Homo sapiens: one gene and its partner. The protein of the gene in region 1 purifies or fractionates together with the protein of each later gene. This does not show direct contact. Each region holds a gene or a part of one and is shown on either strand. Other genes may lie near its edges.

Evidence for each region.
Region 2: the proteins of SLC27A3 (region 1) and LIMD1 purify together in Homo sapiens (affinity purification with mass spectrometry; 3 studies listed by BioGRID and IntAct, with this or other methods). This does not show direct contact.

The regions. Positions count from the first base shown.
Region 1 is NC_000001.11:153,770,735-153,779,569, forward strand, and holds the start of SLC27A3 (long-chain fatty acid transport protein 3), read left to right. Parts: upstream 1-4,672; 5' UTR 4,673-4,763; coding exon 4,764-5,430; intron 5,431-5,783; coding exon 5,784-5,993; intron 5,994-6,327; coding exon 6,328-6,486; intron 6,487-7,026; coding exon 7,027-7,151; intron 7,152-7,426; coding exon 7,427-7,621; intron 7,622-7,728; coding exon 7,729-7,819; intron 7,820-7,952; coding exon 7,953-8,151; intron 8,152-8,379; coding exon 8,380-8,477; intron 8,478-8,608; coding exon 8,609-8,739; intron 8,740-8,835. Other genes in the region: INTS3 (integrator complex subunit 3), read left to right, coding at 1,062-1,229, 1,606-1,706, 1,905-1,977, 2,191-2,347, 2,459-2,536. UniProt on the Homo sapiens protein: Mainly functions as an acyl-CoA ligase catalyzing the ATP-dependent formation of fatty acyl-CoA using LCFA and very-long-chain fatty acids (VLCFA) as substrates.
Region 2 is NC_000003.12:45,597,203-45,605,365, forward strand, and holds part of LIMD1 (LIM domain-containing protein 1), read left to right. Parts: intron 1-8,163. UniProt on the Homo sapiens protein: Adapter or scaffold protein which participates in the assembly of numerous protein complexes and is involved in several cellular processes such as cell fate determination, cytoskeletal organization, repression of gene transcription, cell-cell adhesion, cell differentiation, proliferation and migration.

The DNA.
Region 1 (8,835 bases):
TGAGTTCCACTTCTGGGGCTCTTTAGCCCTCAATTTTAACATCCCAAGAGCTGCTGTGGTCTAAAGGGCTTCTGTCCTCCTCCTTATTGCCATATTTTTTCCTGTCGTTAACATCTGCTTATTCTGCCCTTCCCCCAACGTGACTTACAAATGAGCAGCTCCCCTGGGATCTGGGCTTCCTCTCGACTTTACCCCCCTGCCCACCAGGAGCTGCCCTCGGAGGTGGGGAGGTGGGGACCGGACATCCCTGTTTCCTGCTGCCACAGCAGTTCTAATCCCTGGTGGCTCCTGCTCCCCGCCGCGCCCCCCCCACCGCCCCATGCTCCTGCTGGCCACCGCACAGCTAATCCAAGAGGAGGGAGGGTCAGGGTAGAGGGGTCACGCACCATCCTCTCCCTCACCCTGTGCAGAGCAGAGCCAGCTGGACCTACTGTGCCTTGACAGGGTGGGGCAGAGAGGGAGAGGGTGGCAGCCCCCTCTTCCCGCAAAGCCCTTTAGCAACATCCCCCGATAAATGGGGCAGCAGCTGTGTATCTTATCCTTCCTACCTTTCTGCCTTCCTTCCACCCTTTCTGCTCTCTTGCCTGAGAGACTATAAATGGTACAGAGTGTCCTAGAGGAAGTGGGAAGCTTGGAGGCTGTATGGGGCTGTGACTTCACAACCCTCTCCTGCCCCCTTCCTCCAGCTGGAAGCCAGGTTGGCCCACAGCTTTAGCAGGGTAGGGGTAGGGGAGCATCTGCATGCCACATGCTTGTGCTTCTGCCTCCCAGGCCCACTCCCTGACTGTTCTAGGGGAGGAGGAGGAGAACTGAGGGTCCTCCTTCCCAACACACACACGCACACGCCTTCTCCTACCACAGCAAGTGAAGAATCTCACTTCTTCTCTCCTGGCTTCCACAGAGGATGAAACCAGGCATTCCTTGGCCTAAGGAGAAGAGGGAGAGGGATGTGAGAGTAGTGGGTGGGTGGGGAGGCCAGGGCTTGGGAAATAAGTGGGAGAGACCCAGCATGCCCTGCGGCCACTGTGCAAGCAGCACCCAGTGCCCCCTTCCTCCCCCAGGCCCAGCGAGGAGATGGTGAAGATGGTGCTGAGCCGGCCCTGCCATCCTGACGACCAGTTCACCACCAGCATCCTGCGGCACTGGTGCATGAAACATGACGAGCTGCTGGCCGAGCACATCAAGTCCCTGCTCATCAAGAACAACAGCCTGCCTCGCAAGAGACAGAGGTGGGACACGGTCCCTGTCTACCCTCCAGGCCATGGCGGTCTGCAGTGATTGCTGTCGGTGGTGGTGGTGGTGGTGGTGGTGGTGGTGATGGGGGTCAGTGCTGTCCCAGCCTGGTTTGTGGGCGACATCTAGTGGTCCGAAGCCACATGGCATGCGAGACCACCGTGGCCCTTTCTCCCCATCTTCCAGTGCCCCTGTGGCCAGGATCCCCTGTTCTAGGCACACCTTTCTCACCCAACCCCAGCCCTCCCAGGCTGCCTATCCTGTTCCCCATGTAGGCTGCCTCTGTCTTAAGGGGGCCCTGGCGGGTGGAGGGTGTCTCGCACTCTGGAACCCTCCCACACTCAGACTCTGGCTCTGGTGATTCCTGCACAGCCTGAGGAGCTCTAGCAGCAAGCTGGCCCAGCTGACTCTGGAGCAGATCCTGGAGCACTTGGACAATCTGCGGCTCAACCTGACCAACACCAAGCAGAACTGTATGCCTTCCACCCTCGGCGTCCAGTGTAGACGGTGCTGCCCTGGCCCAGACTATGCCTGGAGCCAGGCTGGGGGCAGGGGCAGGACACCCGGGGCCACAACCCACACTCGGGATAAAACAACCTGTGCGTGCTGTTTAATAAGCTCCCAGACATCTGATTGTTTTTCCTTCCCTGCTCTCCCTTTTCTTCCTCTAGTTTTTAGCCAGACGCCAATTCTCCAGGCGCTGCAGCATGTCCAAGCGAGCTGTGACGAAGCCCACAAGATGAAGTGAGGCTCCTGCCACTTTGGGCCTTGGAAAGTAGTAGGGGAAAAGCCTAAGGGAGAGGAAGCCTGCTAGGGACATAAACGTAATGGCCAGCAAGACCTTAGGGTCCAGGGTTGAAGAAAAAGAAGGCCTAGGCCTGGGGGCAGAGAAGAGGATGGGAGGTGCCGTAGGAGCAGCAGGCTCCCACTCAAAGAGCTACCGCTCCTTTTCCTTAGATTCAGTGATCTCTTCTCCCTGGCGGAGGAATATGAGGACTCTTCCACCAAGCCACCCAAGAGCCGGCGAAAAGCAGCTCTGTCCAGCCCTCGAAGTCGAAAGAATGCCACACAGCCCCCCAATGCCGAAGAAGAGTCGGGCTCCAGCAGTGCTTCAGTGAGAACCCAGCCAGTGCACAGGGGGAAAAGGAGCACTGGGTGCAGGTGGAGTCGGCGCCAGCAGCTGCCCAGGCTGTTAACTTCCCATTTCCCCTCCCATCTCTTCCAGGAAGAGGAAGACACGAAACCGAAGCCTACCAAGCGGAAACGAAAAGGGTCCTCTGCAGTGGGCTCTGACAGTGACTGAGGCCCTGCATTCCCCATCCCACCCCCGGCTGGACTGCCCTCTCCTTCTTGGTGATTCAAAGGTTAATAGAGGCTGAGGAGATTGCAGGGGAAACACCCTTGCTGCATCCCCAAGCTCCCCCGGTGGAAGGAGGAGCTTTCTCCTCTGGCTGAGTTTGAGAAGCTGCCATGCAGCCCCTAGCCCCTTCCCTCCTCCTGGGGCCTCCAGCCCCTCACACTGCTGTTCCCAGTGATATTTGGGATCTGACTGAAGCCAGAGGCTCTGTAAAATCAGACCATAGTGGAAGTCCTCAGCCCCCTGGCCCCTTCCGCAATCTCCTCCCCCAGTCTCCCAAAGAGCCATTTCAACAGAGAAGGGAAATGACAAAGGGGCAGCTGGCCAGATAAGCTAGGATGAGAGCAGAGACTCAGTGTGTGGGTGTCCCTTCCTGCTTCCCCTTCAGGTCTTGGTTTGTTCTGAAGGGACGTTTTATAGTCACTATCCACATGCCAGTGTGAAATGGGCATCTATGACGTGGTCAGGGTGTCCATTCCTAATCATGGGGCAGATGCCACAAGCATTCAGAAAGGAGTCTGAAAGGGTGGCCACAGCCCCACGTGGTGTGCCCTGGAGGCTTAGGTTGGTCTGAGGTTGGCACCTCAATCTACACCAGAGCCCAGGGAGTCCCAGAGGCAAGTTTCACAGAATTGTCAAATGATCCCATTTCCTTGAGTCTGTTTTTTTTTTTGTTTTTTTTTGTTTTTTTTTTGGCAGAGATAATCGTGTCTTAAAAGTTGTTTTTAAATGACAATAAAACAAGCCAGAATGTCTTTTGTGCTGGAGTGTCTGCTGGCATTTGCCCCGTGCATGTATAGCTTGGTCTTGATTTGATTGGCACCCCTACTTGTAACCGCAGAACATCCCCCTTTCCCTTCCTGTTCTGCCCCCACTTTTGTCTAGAGCAGAAGGGACTTGGCTTTGGCCACTACCCATCCTTCCTGCTGCCACTGGAGGTGGGAGCCAGGCACTGATCTGTCTATGCAGAACCATCCCCCGTAGGATGAGGCCTGTCCTTACTCATTTCTCAAGAAACAAGATGCTTCCAAAAGGTCTGTCATCCTCCAGTTGAAGTCTGTGTGCCTACCAAGAATGGCCGGAGGACTCGCTGCTTGACGGGAGGGATGCTCCAGCTTGGTCTCCAGGGACAACTGTACCTGGAGATAAAGTCTGGATACCAGGGAGGGACAGAGATGCTCTTCCTTCCACAGTGTGGCCACTTGCTGGGCCATGTGAACCAGCAGAGGAGAGTTCCTTGGCTATGCTGTTGTTCCCCCGCTGTCCAGGGAGAATGGAGGTGGACTGAGGAGTGAAGTTTGGGCGAACTGCACAGAGCTGCTCCTCTTCACCCCGAAAATTTGTCTTTTTACAGAATCCAGGTTCTCCCCTCCCTCATCACTGCTGTTGCTTCCTTTGAAAGTCTAAACCACTGGAGGCTTCTTTTTCCTTCCTCTCTCCTTCCCCAGTTTCCTCTGTCCCAATTAAAACCAGGATGGAGAGCATTTGCTGGCTGGCCCCAATTATTGTACCCTTGCCCAAAGGGAGGGGCCTCTGTCGTGACCCCTCAGAAATCTGGCAGTCTGGGTTTCCACCTTTCCCCTATTTAACTCTCAGCCCCCACCCATCCCCTGGGGTTGCGGCTGGCAGGCCGGGACTTGCAGAACCAAATGGGCCAGGGGCCAAGTTCATTCTTTTGGGAGAGAGCAATGGTACCTTCCCTTAACGGGAAAACGAGAAATATTGAGGGGAAGATGGACTGCGATCCAAACGCCCTGGCTCTCAGGCCTGGACTCTAGGGCTTAGCCAGATGCCTAAACCGCCCAAGCCGAGAAACAACTTAGAAGACAGACATAACCCTGGGATTCAGGGAAGGCGCGAGCACCGCCCAGGACCTGGTAGGGTGCGAGCCGCGAGCAGTCCGGGAGGGAGCGCGCCTAGGGCGGAGCGTAGGCTGTGGGGGGAGGGCTGGGAGTCCGGGGCCGCCCCACACCCGCACTCCTCCCGGGTTTCTGCTCTCCGCCCGTGTGGAGTGGTGGGGGCCTGGGTGGGAATGGGCGTGTGCCAGCGCACGCGCGCTCCCTGGAAGGAGAAGTCTCAGCTAGAACGAGCGGCCCTAGGTTTTCGGAAGGGAGGATCAGGGATGTTTGCGAGCGGCTGGAACCAGACGGTGCCGATAGAGGAAGCGGGCTCCATGGCTGCCCTCCTGCTGCTGCCCCTGCTGCTGTTGCTACCGCTGCTGCTGCTGAAGCTACACCTCTGGCCGCAGTTGCGCTGGCTTCCGGCGGACTTGGCCTTTGCGGTGCGAGCTCTGTGCTGCAAAAGGGCTCTTCGAGCTCGCGCCCTGGCCGCGGCTGCCGCCGACCCGGAAGGTCCCGAGGGGGGCTGCAGCCTGGCCTGGCGCCTCGCGGAACTGGCCCAGCAGCGCGCCGCGCACACCTTTCTCATTCACGGCTCGCGGCGCTTTAGCTACTCAGAGGCGGAGCGCGAGAGTAACAGGGCTGCACGCGCCTTCCTACGTGCGCTAGGCTGGGACTGGGGACCCGACGGCGGCGACAGCGGCGAGGGGAGCGCTGGAGAAGGCGAGCGGGCAGCGCCGGGAGCCGGAGATGCAGCGGCCGGAAGCGGCGCGGAGTTTGCCGGAGGGGACGGTGCCGCCAGAGGTGGAGGAGCCGCCGCCCCTCTGTCACCTGGAGCAACTGTGGCGCTGCTCCTCCCCGCTGGCCCAGAGTTTCTGTGGCTCTGGTTCGGGCTGGCCAAGGCCGGCCTGCGCACTGCCTTTGTGCCCACCGCCCTGCGCCGGGGCCCCCTGCTGCACTGCCTCCGCAGCTGCGGCGCGCGCGCGCTGGTGCTGGCGCCAGGTAAGGCTGGAGCTCCGAACTGACTAAGGCGGGGCCAGCCACAGAAGGGGGCGTGTCGGAGACCACAGAAAGGCTTGGTCTCATCCCTGGGCCTGGGAAGAAGCCGACTATCCCTTGGGGTTCGAAAGTGGGTGGAGATAGGAGTCTCCGGGTTTGAGAAGGGATGAGGCTGAATCTTTGGTGCCCCAAGGATCCCCAAGGAGTCGAGTTCCAGGCCTCAGACCCAAGATGGAATGTCCATACCCTTCACCCTCATCCAAGAGCAGTGTGGGCTGGGATAGGGAGGGGACATGGGTCATAGGCTCTTCTAGGTAGAGCCAGGGCCCCGGCGTTGTGCTTTCCCACCCTTCTAGAGTTTCTGGAGTCCCTGGAGCCGGACCTGCCCGCCCTGAGAGCCATGGGGCTCCACCTGTGGGCTGCAGGCCCAGGAACCCACCCTGCTGGAATTAGCGATTTGCTGGCTGAAGTGTCCGCTGAAGTGGATGGGCCAGTGCCAGGATACCTCTCTTCCCCCCAGAGCATAACAGACACGTGCCTGTACATCTTCACCTCTGGCACCACGGGTGAGGGCCGGGCACCATACTTAGCTCCCCGAAACCAAGGCAGAGGAAGGCAGGGGTCTGCTCCCAGACCACTCCTTCAAAGCCCCCAGAGAGGATGCTGATTTCATTGGCACATCCTTTTTCTCCCCATCATTTCACTCCCCAGTCTCCTCACCTCCTACTCATTTCTCCACCTCCCCCAGACCACCCATATTTCCAGGACAGCCTGGTCTCGGTCCTCAGCTTCTGTCCTGCCTCCGCCTCTTTCTGTGGGAAACCCAGCGGGGGTGCAAACAGATAGGTAGAGCTTGGAGTTTGCCCTTCCCCTGATCGTCCCATAACTGCCACCCCACAGGCCTCCCCAAGGCTGCTCGGATCAGTCATCTGAAGATCCTGCAATGCCAGGGCTTCTATCAGCTGTGTGGTGTCCACCAGGAAGATGTGATCTACCTCGCCCTCCCACTCTACCACATGTCCGGTTCCCTGCTGGGCATCGTGGGCTGCATGGGCATTGGTCAGTCTCCCCAACCCCACCTTCATTAATTCATCCAGTAGACATTTATTAAGCACGTACTATGGTGTGAGTCCTCCAGGGTAGATAATCTAGAGGACGGATGGGGCAGAGCCCTACTCACCAGGAGCTCTGTACAATAGGGCAATGTCACCTGCCTAGACCTACAGACTGAGGAACGGTGAGGGGGGCCATACAGCCACATAACTCCAGGCTGCAGGGTCAAAGGCAGGGAAGGACTGTGTCAGTCCAGGAACAGGCAAGTAAGAGAAGAGGGAGAGAGAGACAAGGAAGTGAGAGTGTGGAGGATGAGATCTTTGGGGCTGGGAAGTAGGGAAAGGGCATTCACCTCTTCTAAGGCTGGGGACAGGGGCCGGGGGAGGGGAAAGAGGGCCAGCACGGCTTCCTGACGGTGTGACTCCCACAGTGGGCCCTTCCCAGGGAAAGACTACAGTGATGGCTGGGGTCTGGAAAGAGGGGCTTGGGCTCCCCACTCTGCTCCTAATCTTACCTCCCTTCTTCCCCCCTGCCCACTTCTGGCAGGGGCCACAGTGGTGCTGAAATCCAAGTTCTCGGCTGGTCAGTTCTGGGAAGATTGCCAGCAGCACAGGGTGACGGTGTTCCAGTACATTGGGGAGCTGTGCCGATACCTTGTCAACCAGCCCCCGGTGCGTGGGCACAGATCCTGGGCAGAGCTGCTGACACAGGGCTAGCTCACGGGGAGCAGGACAGTTGACAGGAGACAGGGAGTTGGAGGGAGAAGCAGCAAGAAGAAAATGGCAGTGTAAGATAAGGAGCCAGAGATGGCCTAGGCCATCTGATGCTTACGGCCTCTGAAGGAGGTCACAGTAGGAGGGGGTTCTGGGGAATGGGGAACAGGAATTCACTTCCGGGAGCGGGCATCTTGATGCTGAAGCTCCGGCCCCTCTCCCACTCATCTCAGAGCAAGGCAGAACGTGGCCATAAGGTCCGGCTGGCAGTGGGCAGCGGGCTGCGCCCAGATACCTGGGAGCGTTTTGTGCGGCGCTTCGGGCCCCTGCAGGTGCTGGAGACATATGGACTGACAGAGGGCAACGTGGCCACCATCAACTACACAGGACAGCGGGGCGCTGTGGGGCGTGCTTCCTGGCTTTACAAGGTGAGGGGCAGAGAGGAAACTGAAAACCCGTGGAACAGCAGAGGGCTGGCAGGAGAGGGGGCTCATGTGACTGCAATGATCCAGTACCCAGGTCTCCCTTTCCCCAGCATATCTTCCCCTTCTCCTTGATTCGCTATGATGTCACCACAGGAGAGCCAATTCGGGACCCCCAGGGGCACTGTATGGCCACATCTCCAGGTTGGTGGTGTTCTGGTGGGGTGGGCGGGGTGCTGAAGCTGGCACAGGAGGACTGGAATTGGAGACTGGGGTGGATGGGGGCAGAAGGCTCTGGGAAAGGTGACACCACTCCTGACCCTGGTGACTCTGCCAGGTGAGCCAGGGCTGCTGGTGGCCCCGGTAAGCCAGCAGTCCCCATTCCTGGGCTATGCTGGCGGGCCAGAGCTGGCCCAGGGGAAGTTGCTAAAGGATGTCTTCCGGCCTGGGGATGTTTTCTTCAACACTGGGGACCTGCTGGTCTGCGATGACCAAGGTTTTCTCCGCTTCCATGATCGTACTGGAGACACCTTCAGGTATCTGTCCATAACTGGTTTTTCATCCTGGACATCTGATCTCTGTGATCCAAAGCTTCTGAACCTCAACTCTCTAATCTGCCACCTCAACCTGGGTCCTAAGCTAATCTCTCATTCTCAGATCTCACCATTTCATCCCTGTGACACTGACCTCTGACCTCATCTCCCCACCAAGCCCATAAGGCCCTGACCCCTGACTCCCAGTTTCAGATCTCTGCTCTCTGACAGGTGGAAGGGGGAGAATGTGGCCACAACCGAGGTGGCAGAGGTCTTCGAGGCCCTAGATTTTCTTCAGGAGGTGAACGTCTATGGAGTCACTGTGCCAGGTGCCTAGGCATGGAAGGTGGGGGAGGCACCCAGCCACCACCCCGAATTGGTAGTACTTGGGCGCAGGGAGCACGAGGCCTTCGTGGTGGTCAGCCATGGAGGGGCTTACTCTGTCTCCCACACCCACCAGGGCATGAAGGCAGGGCTGGAATGGCAGCCCTAGTTCTGCGTCCCCCCCACGCTTTGGACCTTATGCAGCTCTACACCCACGTGTCTGAGAACTTGCCACCTTATGCCCGGCCCCGATTCCTCAGGCTCCAGGTAACCGGCCACTTCCCCCGCCGGCCCCTCACCCCATATATCCTCACCCCACATATCCACCCCGTGTATCAACTTAGGAGTTTGATGGCTCCCAAA
Region 2 (8,163 bases), on another chromosome or scaffold:
CTTTGCCTGGAAACTGATTAGAAATGGAAATTCTTGGGCCCCACCCAAGACCTACTGAATCAGAAACTGTGGGATGGGACCCAGCCAGCCGTGATCCTGCTGTGTGGTGAGATTTGAGCCCTGCCGCACCATGTGCCTCCTAACCCAGCCTACACCCAGGTAACAGCCAACAGCCAGGTTGCACCACAGCCGTGGCACAAACTATGATGGAAAATGTGTCTTCCTGGTTTTACTCAAACTTGCATGTTTTGTTTTATTCTCTTTTTTAAAACCACAAACTCTTGGAGACTGCTAGCTTCAACTTTTTTTCTTTGCACGAGGTTTAGTGGTAGTTGTATCTTTCTGTTGAGTAATGATTAGTTGTCTCATAAGAGAGCTAACTAGAAAGACAGCCTATTCGCAGAGAATCGGAGGGGTTTTTCTTTTTCAGTTTTTAACTTTGGATAATTGACCCCCGTGTTCCCCATAGCCTGAGTCCTGCTGGGGTAGCAGCTCTGCCTAGTGGAGGGCAGGGACAGGGAAGGCCCTGGGAGAGGAAGACAGCTGGCTTACTGCTGTCAGTCTACGCTTATTCTCCGTGAACGAGCAAGTGTCCCAAGGTCCTTTGAGGGACCAGGGTCTGAGGCACTGGGCTGCTGGATGTGTGCAGCTTATGGTAGCATTGTGTTTTGCTTCTCATGAGAACCTTGTGGGAGCCAGTTCTCACCCCATACTCAGCAGGCTGAGGTCAGGGTAGCTGTTTATGGCTTACTTTTTTTAAATTTATTTTTATTTATTTATTTGTTTATTTATTTATTTATTTTGAGACAAGGTCTTGCCTTGTTGCCCAGGCTGGAGTGCAGTGCACCCTAGACCTCCCGGACTCAAGGCATCTTCCTACCTCAGCCTCCTGAGTAGCTAGGACTACTTAAGAGGAAGCAGGGGAGGAAGGGGACGTGGAGGTGGGGGGTCCTCTCTAGGTTGCCCAGGCTGTTCTTCTGGGCTCAAGTGATCTTCCTGCCTCAGCCTCCCAAAGTGCTGGGATTACAGGTGTGAGCCACTGTGCCCGGCCTACTGGTTTATTTTTTAAAGCACATGGCACCATCTTACTGTGAACTATCTTTTCTCCTCAGCACATTCCCACATTTGGGAGTAATAGTTAGCTGGAAATACTGTGGGTCTTTTAATTTAAACTTTTGTTTAGTTGTAAATTTCAAGCTCATTGGACAACACAAACAGCAGTTTTATCTTGAGATGCAAGTTTATGCTGTGCATCAGAGCAACGGTATTAGCTGACGCTACTCATCCATTCAGCATATATTAAAATTTATTGAGCACCTATCTTGAGGCCATGCTCTATTCCAGGTCTTGGGGATACATAGTGAACAGGACAGACAGGAACCTCTGCCTCCCTGGAGCAGACAATGTAGTAGAAGGAGGCAGGGAGTGAATGAAGTAAATAAGCAAGTACTAGGGAGAGAATCAAGGTAGAGAAAGGGAATGGAGCCCTGGGGCTGGGGGTGGCAGAGAGATTTCCAGTTTTAAATTGGGTGATCAGGGAATGTCCCACCTAGAAGATGCATTTGAGCAAAGGCAGGCAGGAGACTGGACCATGTGTTTTCCCAGGGAAATGGTGTTCTTGGCAGAGCAGACAGCAAGCACAGAGTCCCTGTAGGCCTGGTCTGTGCTGGGCACTGTACTGAACACTTGATGCTGACTATTGAATTGACTGGTCACAGCATCCTTGGAAGCTGGTTCTGCCATTATGCCCATTTTACTGATGAGAAAACGGAAGCTCAGGGAGATTAAATTACTTACTGGCGGTGTCACAGGTCATATTGGGTACTGCTGGGACTTGAACCTGACAGTTCAGTTCAGCCTCAGGGCCCATGTGTCTAACCAGCATTGCCAAACAGTCTCCCAAGCAGAGATTTGGAAGCCTATTTTATTTATTTATTTTTATGGTTTTTTTTTAATTGAGATGAAATTCACATAATGTAAAATTAACCATTTTGAAGTGAACAATTCAGTGGTGTTTAATATTAATACATTCACAACGTTGTACAATGAACACCTCCGTCCAGTTCCAAAATGTTTTCGTCAACCCAAAAGGAAACCCCATACCCATAAAGCAATTGCTCCCTGTTTCCCCCATCCCCTCCCAGCTCCTGGCAACAACCAATGTGCATTCTGTCCCTATGGCATTTACCTATTCTGGAATTTCATTTAGAAACGGAATCGTGTATTTTATTCATTTTTTGTATAAACTTCACAGATAAGCAAGCACGCACAGTGAAAATCGAGCCTCTTTCCCTGGTCTGTCTAGTCAAGTGTTCTGGGTGTAATAAGCATGTGTGTGTTTCTGCCAGCCCCAGTGGTGGCATGCTGTTCCACTGCACAGCGTCTTGGCAGTGGCTCTACATCAGCATGTGTTCAGCTGGCTATACGTGGCTGCTGTGCAATGTGCCTAGGTCACCTAAGGTCACCTAAGCAGCCCTCACTGATGGGCCTTTGGAATGTACCCACCTACAAGGGGCAGGCGTAGCTGCAAGATGAGCTCCCAGGAGTGGGACTGTGGGGCTGCGTGGTTTGTGTCCTTTAGGTGTGGCTTGGTTGCTTCCTGCAGAGCTCATGCCAGGGCTGAGCTGCCAGCTATGTAGGAGAGGGTTTGCTCCACACCTGCTTTGGTGGCAGAGCTTCCATCTGCTCTTCTGCGACCTACCTTGGGGCAGAGGAGGAAGTCTTTCGGTCTGAAGATTGGCAGTCATTGCCTGGCCCTGTGTGGGGACCATGAAGAGACCACATGCTCCTCCAGACCACTCCTCCCTTGTCGGTAGCCTGAGGAGGCTGGACAGCTGAGGGGCTCCCTCCCACAGATACTTTTTCCTCCCCTACATCTGGTATTACTTGAAAGATTTTGTCTACCCAACACGCTACATTTGTTAAATAATGGTTAGATTCTACTTCCAAACAGAAGAATGTTTAATGGTGCAGGGCGCTTGGCAGTGAGAGTCAGAGTGACACAACTCCCCATGAGAGGTGATGTCACTCAGGCCAAAAGCAAAGCAAAGTAGATGTTTGGGTTAGCTTGGGCCCCTTCCTAGGTTGAACTGAAGGTGTCCCTTTGGGCATTTGACTTTGTGGGAAGAGCTTGTGAATCCCTGTTGCCACCTTTGTAAGCCCTTAGAGTCTCAAGATGCCCAGTTTCCAGTTACTGATTAACTTGGCACGGGAACTCTCCTGGCACTTTCCATGGCTGGTCTTTGTGGGTTTAGTAAAATAGGATCCTACAGAGGCGTGTCTCTTTCCCTACTCTGCTGGGCCTACTTCCTCCTCCAGCCATCCTCCCCACCCCCTGTCCCCGTTGCCTCTTTGTGTCTCTCTGTCCATGTTGTTGGGTTTTTGGTCTTCTAGGCGTTGCTCCTGGCCTACACCACCTAGTGCAGTGTGGCTTCTGTTTTAGCACCACTGCTGACACTGCAGAGGTGGGGTGCAGAGGGCACCGTGCCTTTGTTAGTTGTGCCCCACCGTCTCCTCCATGTGATCCACCTATCTTCCTCACACTGGTCCTCTTCTCCCTTTCTAAGGAAAAAGGACACAAGCCGGGTGTGGTGGCTCACACCTGTGATCCCAGCGACTCAAGAGACTGAGGCAGGAGAATTGCTTGAGCCCAGGAGTTTAAGACCAGCCTGGGCAACATAGTGAGACCCCATCTCTACAAAAAACACAAAAATTAGCCAGGCATGGTGGTGCACACCTGTAGTCCCAGCTACTTGGGAGGCTGAGGTGGGAAGATTGCTTGAGCCCAGGAGGCTGAGGCTGCAGTGAGATATGATCATGCCACTGCACTCCAGCCTGGGTGACAGAGGGAGACCCTGTCTCAAAACAAAAACAAAAACAAAAAACCCCACAAATAAACCACTTGTCATAGGCTGGGTTTCCTGGGAAGCTGACTGAGACAGAGTTGACCATACAAGGGCTTATTAAAAGGTGCTTTTGGGGTCCCCACCTGTGGAAGATGGAGAAGGAATCAGGAGTGGGTAGAGGAGAGCTGAGCTGCTGGGACCTGACCCCGCAGGGAGCCTGGGAGCTGGAAAAGTCCTTTAGGGTCATCCTAGTTGGCCTGACATGGCCTGGCCTTCACACTCCCTCATGGATCAGCTGTTGGCTGTGGGCTGCCCAGGAAGATGGTGACTTTGGGCGAGGCAGCTCTGTGCAGCTGGGATAGTCTCTTCAGGGGCTGACAGGAGGGCAACCTGCCTGCCGCACCCCAGCAGCTGTGCCCTCCCCTGTCCTCGCCTTCATCGAAGGGCCTTTGCAGCATCCCCACAGTGCCCCCTTCCTGGGGGCAGGTAGGAGCGGGTGACTTGGGCATTATGGTTCTAGTAGTAGCTACCGTGTGTCAAGTGCCAGTGGTGTGCCGGGCACTGGAGTTCAGTGCTTTGTGGGCCTTGTTGGCATTTAACCTGCACACTTAGTTTTGATGTAGGCACCATTCTCTGTTTACAGTTGAGAAACCGAGGCCAGAGAGGTTAAGTGACTTGCTCAAGACCATATGGGTACAAGTAGTGGTGCTCCCATACCAGTCGGGATTTTGCTTCTGCTCTGACCACTTGCATGGTGGGACTAGGTGGTCTCTCACGTCTGAGTGGATGCCTTCTATTGCCCCTCCAGATTCATTCTCCACCCACGTACTGTAGGGAGCTTTTGTGGGCTCCTTGCGTTTTCCATGCCTTCTTCCCCCATATTTCAGGCTGTGGACTTTTTTTTTTTTTTTTTGAGACAGAGTCTCGCTCTGTCGCCCAGGATGGAGTGCAGTGGCGCGATCTTGGCTCACTGCAAGCTCCGCCTCCCAGGTTCAAGCCATTCTCCTGCCTCAGCCTCCCGGGTAGCTGGGACTGCAGGCGCCCGCCACCACGCCCAGCTAATTTTTTATATATATGTTTTTAGTAGAGATGGGGTTTCACTGTGTTAGCCAGGATGGTCTCGATCTCCTGACCTTGTGATCCACCCTCCTTGGCCTCCCAAAGTGCTGGGATTATAGGCGTGAGCCACTGCGCCCGGCCTGGGCTGTGGACTTTTGTGTCCCCTGGACCTGAAGCCCCTGTGCTCACCCTCCCTGCTGTGGGTGGGCCTGGGGATCTGTCACGGCTAAAGCTAACCAGGAGAGAGCCACATTCTGCTCGCTGTTAGGACCAGAGGGGTGGGAAAGGCAAGAATAAGCAGGTTCCAGGGTCTCCTGTACCCAGGAAGTGGATGGACAGGCCTGCTCCTCACCAGCATGGAGAAAGGAAGGGTTGGCATTGTGTTTGGTTTTTCTGTCTTTGGTGGATGTCCTTTCAGCAGTATCCTAACCCAGAAAACTGCAGTGACAGACCCCCCTTAGCCTGGGATCCTGAAAGCAGGTGTGACTCCTCCTGAGAATGGCCCTGCCCTGACCGGGGCCAGGGAGCCTGTCTTACTTGATTTTACTTTCCTGGCAATGCACAGGGTTAAACGAGCAGTCCAAGCAAGGAACATGTGGATGTCCTATCTATGTACCTACATGTCCTATTTGCATGACTACAGATGCCCTATCTGCATGTCTACATGACTACAGATGCCCTTCCATCTGACAGTCTGTTGCACACTGAGCTGCTCCTCGTTTTCATGACTTTTTTTTTTTTTTTTTAAATTGAGACGGAGGCTCACTCCGTCACCCAGGCTGGAGTGCAGTGGTGCGATCTTGGCTCACTGCGGCCACCGCCTCCCCGGGTTCAAGCGATTCTCCTGCCTCAGCCTCCTGGATAGCTGGGATTACAGGCGCGCACCACCATGCCCGGCTAATTTTTGTATTTTCAGTAGAGACAGGGTTTCGCCATGTTGGCCAGGCTGGTCTTGAGCTCCTGACCTCAGGTGATCTGCCCGCCTTGGCCTCCCAAAGTGCTGGGATTACAGGCGTGAGCCACTGCACCTGGCCCTTCATGACTTTTTAATTACTGTTTATCAGACTTTATTAGCAATAGATGCTTGAAATATGGTGCTTAATTCCAGCCTAGATTAAAAAATCGAGCATTTTTCACATAAAAGGAAACAACATGGGCTAGTCTTGTAATAAAGCAGCCCCTCCAGAATTCCAGAACAGAGGTCTGTCTGTGTTCCCCAGAGGCACTGGCTAACCAGCCTCCTCCCATATCAGGCATTTCATTAAACCCAAACCAACTGCTGAAGTGGAAGAAAGTGACAGAAGCTCAACAGCTGTGTGCCTCTGTCTGAGTGACTGGCATGACTAGATATGATGACGTGGGGACTGCCACCAGAATGCCTTTTGGAGATGTGCCATAATTTGAACCAGCCGAATCCAGGTTTCCATTGACATGGAAGTAAATTTCTGACTCTGCTGGTAACATTTGTCAGTGACATTCAAGACTCCAATCTCTCTGGCCCTGCAGATGCACACCCAGGGATATGGGGATGCCCAATCCTTTAGACATCGGGCAGTCTCTGTGCATTCTTTTAAAAAATTGAGGCAGAGTCTCACCATATTGCTTAGGCTGGTTTTGAACTCCCAGCTTCAAGTGATCTCCCACCTCAGCCTCCCAAAGTGCTGGGATTACAGTCGTGAGCCACTGTGCCCAGCCCATGCATTTTTTTAATGGACCAGGCAATCTTCCTAAGTCAGGAAGACATGTATTCTTAACCTTTTATTGATGTACGATGTACACATATCATAGATGTTCACAAAGTGAACCCATCTGTGTAGCCAACACCCAGATCAAGGCAGAACATGACCATCACCCAGGACGCTCCTTGTGCCCCTGTACAGTCACCACCAAGTGTCCAAGGATCAGCTGTCTGATTTCTGATAGCAAAAATGGGCTTTTAAACAAACATGGGATTTGATGTAACTTTTAAAAACTTGGAAAATGTAAAAACACATTATGGCATGTTTGGGGATGGATGAATGGAGATCGTGTGGCTGACCTGGGTGAAGCTTGGGCTGGAGACAGCAAGGAGTTGGTGCCGTCTGCCCAGGGCCACCTCCACTGTATGTCCTCCTGGGCTGGAAGCTCGCCCTGTAACAGCGGTGACTCCTGTGTGGTCAGTGGTCAAGGACTGGATACCGTCTCGGTCCTCTGTGTTCTCTGAAGGGATGTGACTACATCATGTGCCTCAGCCCCGTCCCTGCATGCCATCTCTCTCCACAGCACTTCTCTTCAGAGTTTTCCAGGGGCAGAGGTGAGGAAGCTCTCAAACTTCATTTAGATAGGTTCATCTTTTTGCTCAATCAGCAGGTCAATGATGCATACGTGTCAGGTCACACTGTGTTCTCAGCACTGGGTTGAGTGCTGTGGGGAAGGACAGCCAGTGCGATGGATTCACACTCCTCTCACTGTGACCTTGGAGACCCTCGCTCTGGCCCACCCCTCCTGTGCCTCACCTTGCTCCTTCTTCCCCGTCATCCCAGCCTTGTTTTCTCTGAGCCTGTTGAGGTCCTTGCCTTGGTGGCTCCCAACGGATGTTCTTCTGGCCAGTGCTGTGCTGCCAATGCCACCAATCCCTTCCAAGCAGGCTGATCTGCTGGGAGCTGTAGCCCTGGCGCGTCCCGACATGGATTCCCACAGCGTCTGCCTGTCCCGTCATGCTTTCTCTCTGGAGTCCTCCCTCCTTGGTATGGTATGTTTCTGCTCTGTTCTTTTGTGACCAGGAAAGAATGTCTTGTTTCTTCCATCCAGCCCTCCTGCTCTTTCCATTAACAGTCCAGAACATGAAACGGTTATTTTGACATGATCATTCTTGCCAGGGGTCTTAAAAAGTTATGTTTCTTTACATCTGTTGATTTGTGACTGTCACATAGGAGACAGAACTGTGCAAGAAAGACACATATTTGGGAGTCAGGAAACCAGGTCTTCTGGGCCTGATACCACCAGCAGCTCAGGGTGTGATGTTGGGCAAGTCCCTCTAGCTCTATTGAGCCAAGATGACCTCTCAGGGTCCTTCCCGGCCCAAAGTCCTGTGACAGTGGCATTAGGTATAACTAGATGCCTGGGTTTCAGCTAACCATGTAACAGGGACTGGGCAGCATTATTGTTGGCAGTGGCAGAGAGCCTGGAAAGGCAGAGGCCAAGCGGCCTGGCATCCCAGCCCCTTTCCAGACCTTTACGGAATTAAAAAACAATTTTTATTTTTAGTTATGGTTACATT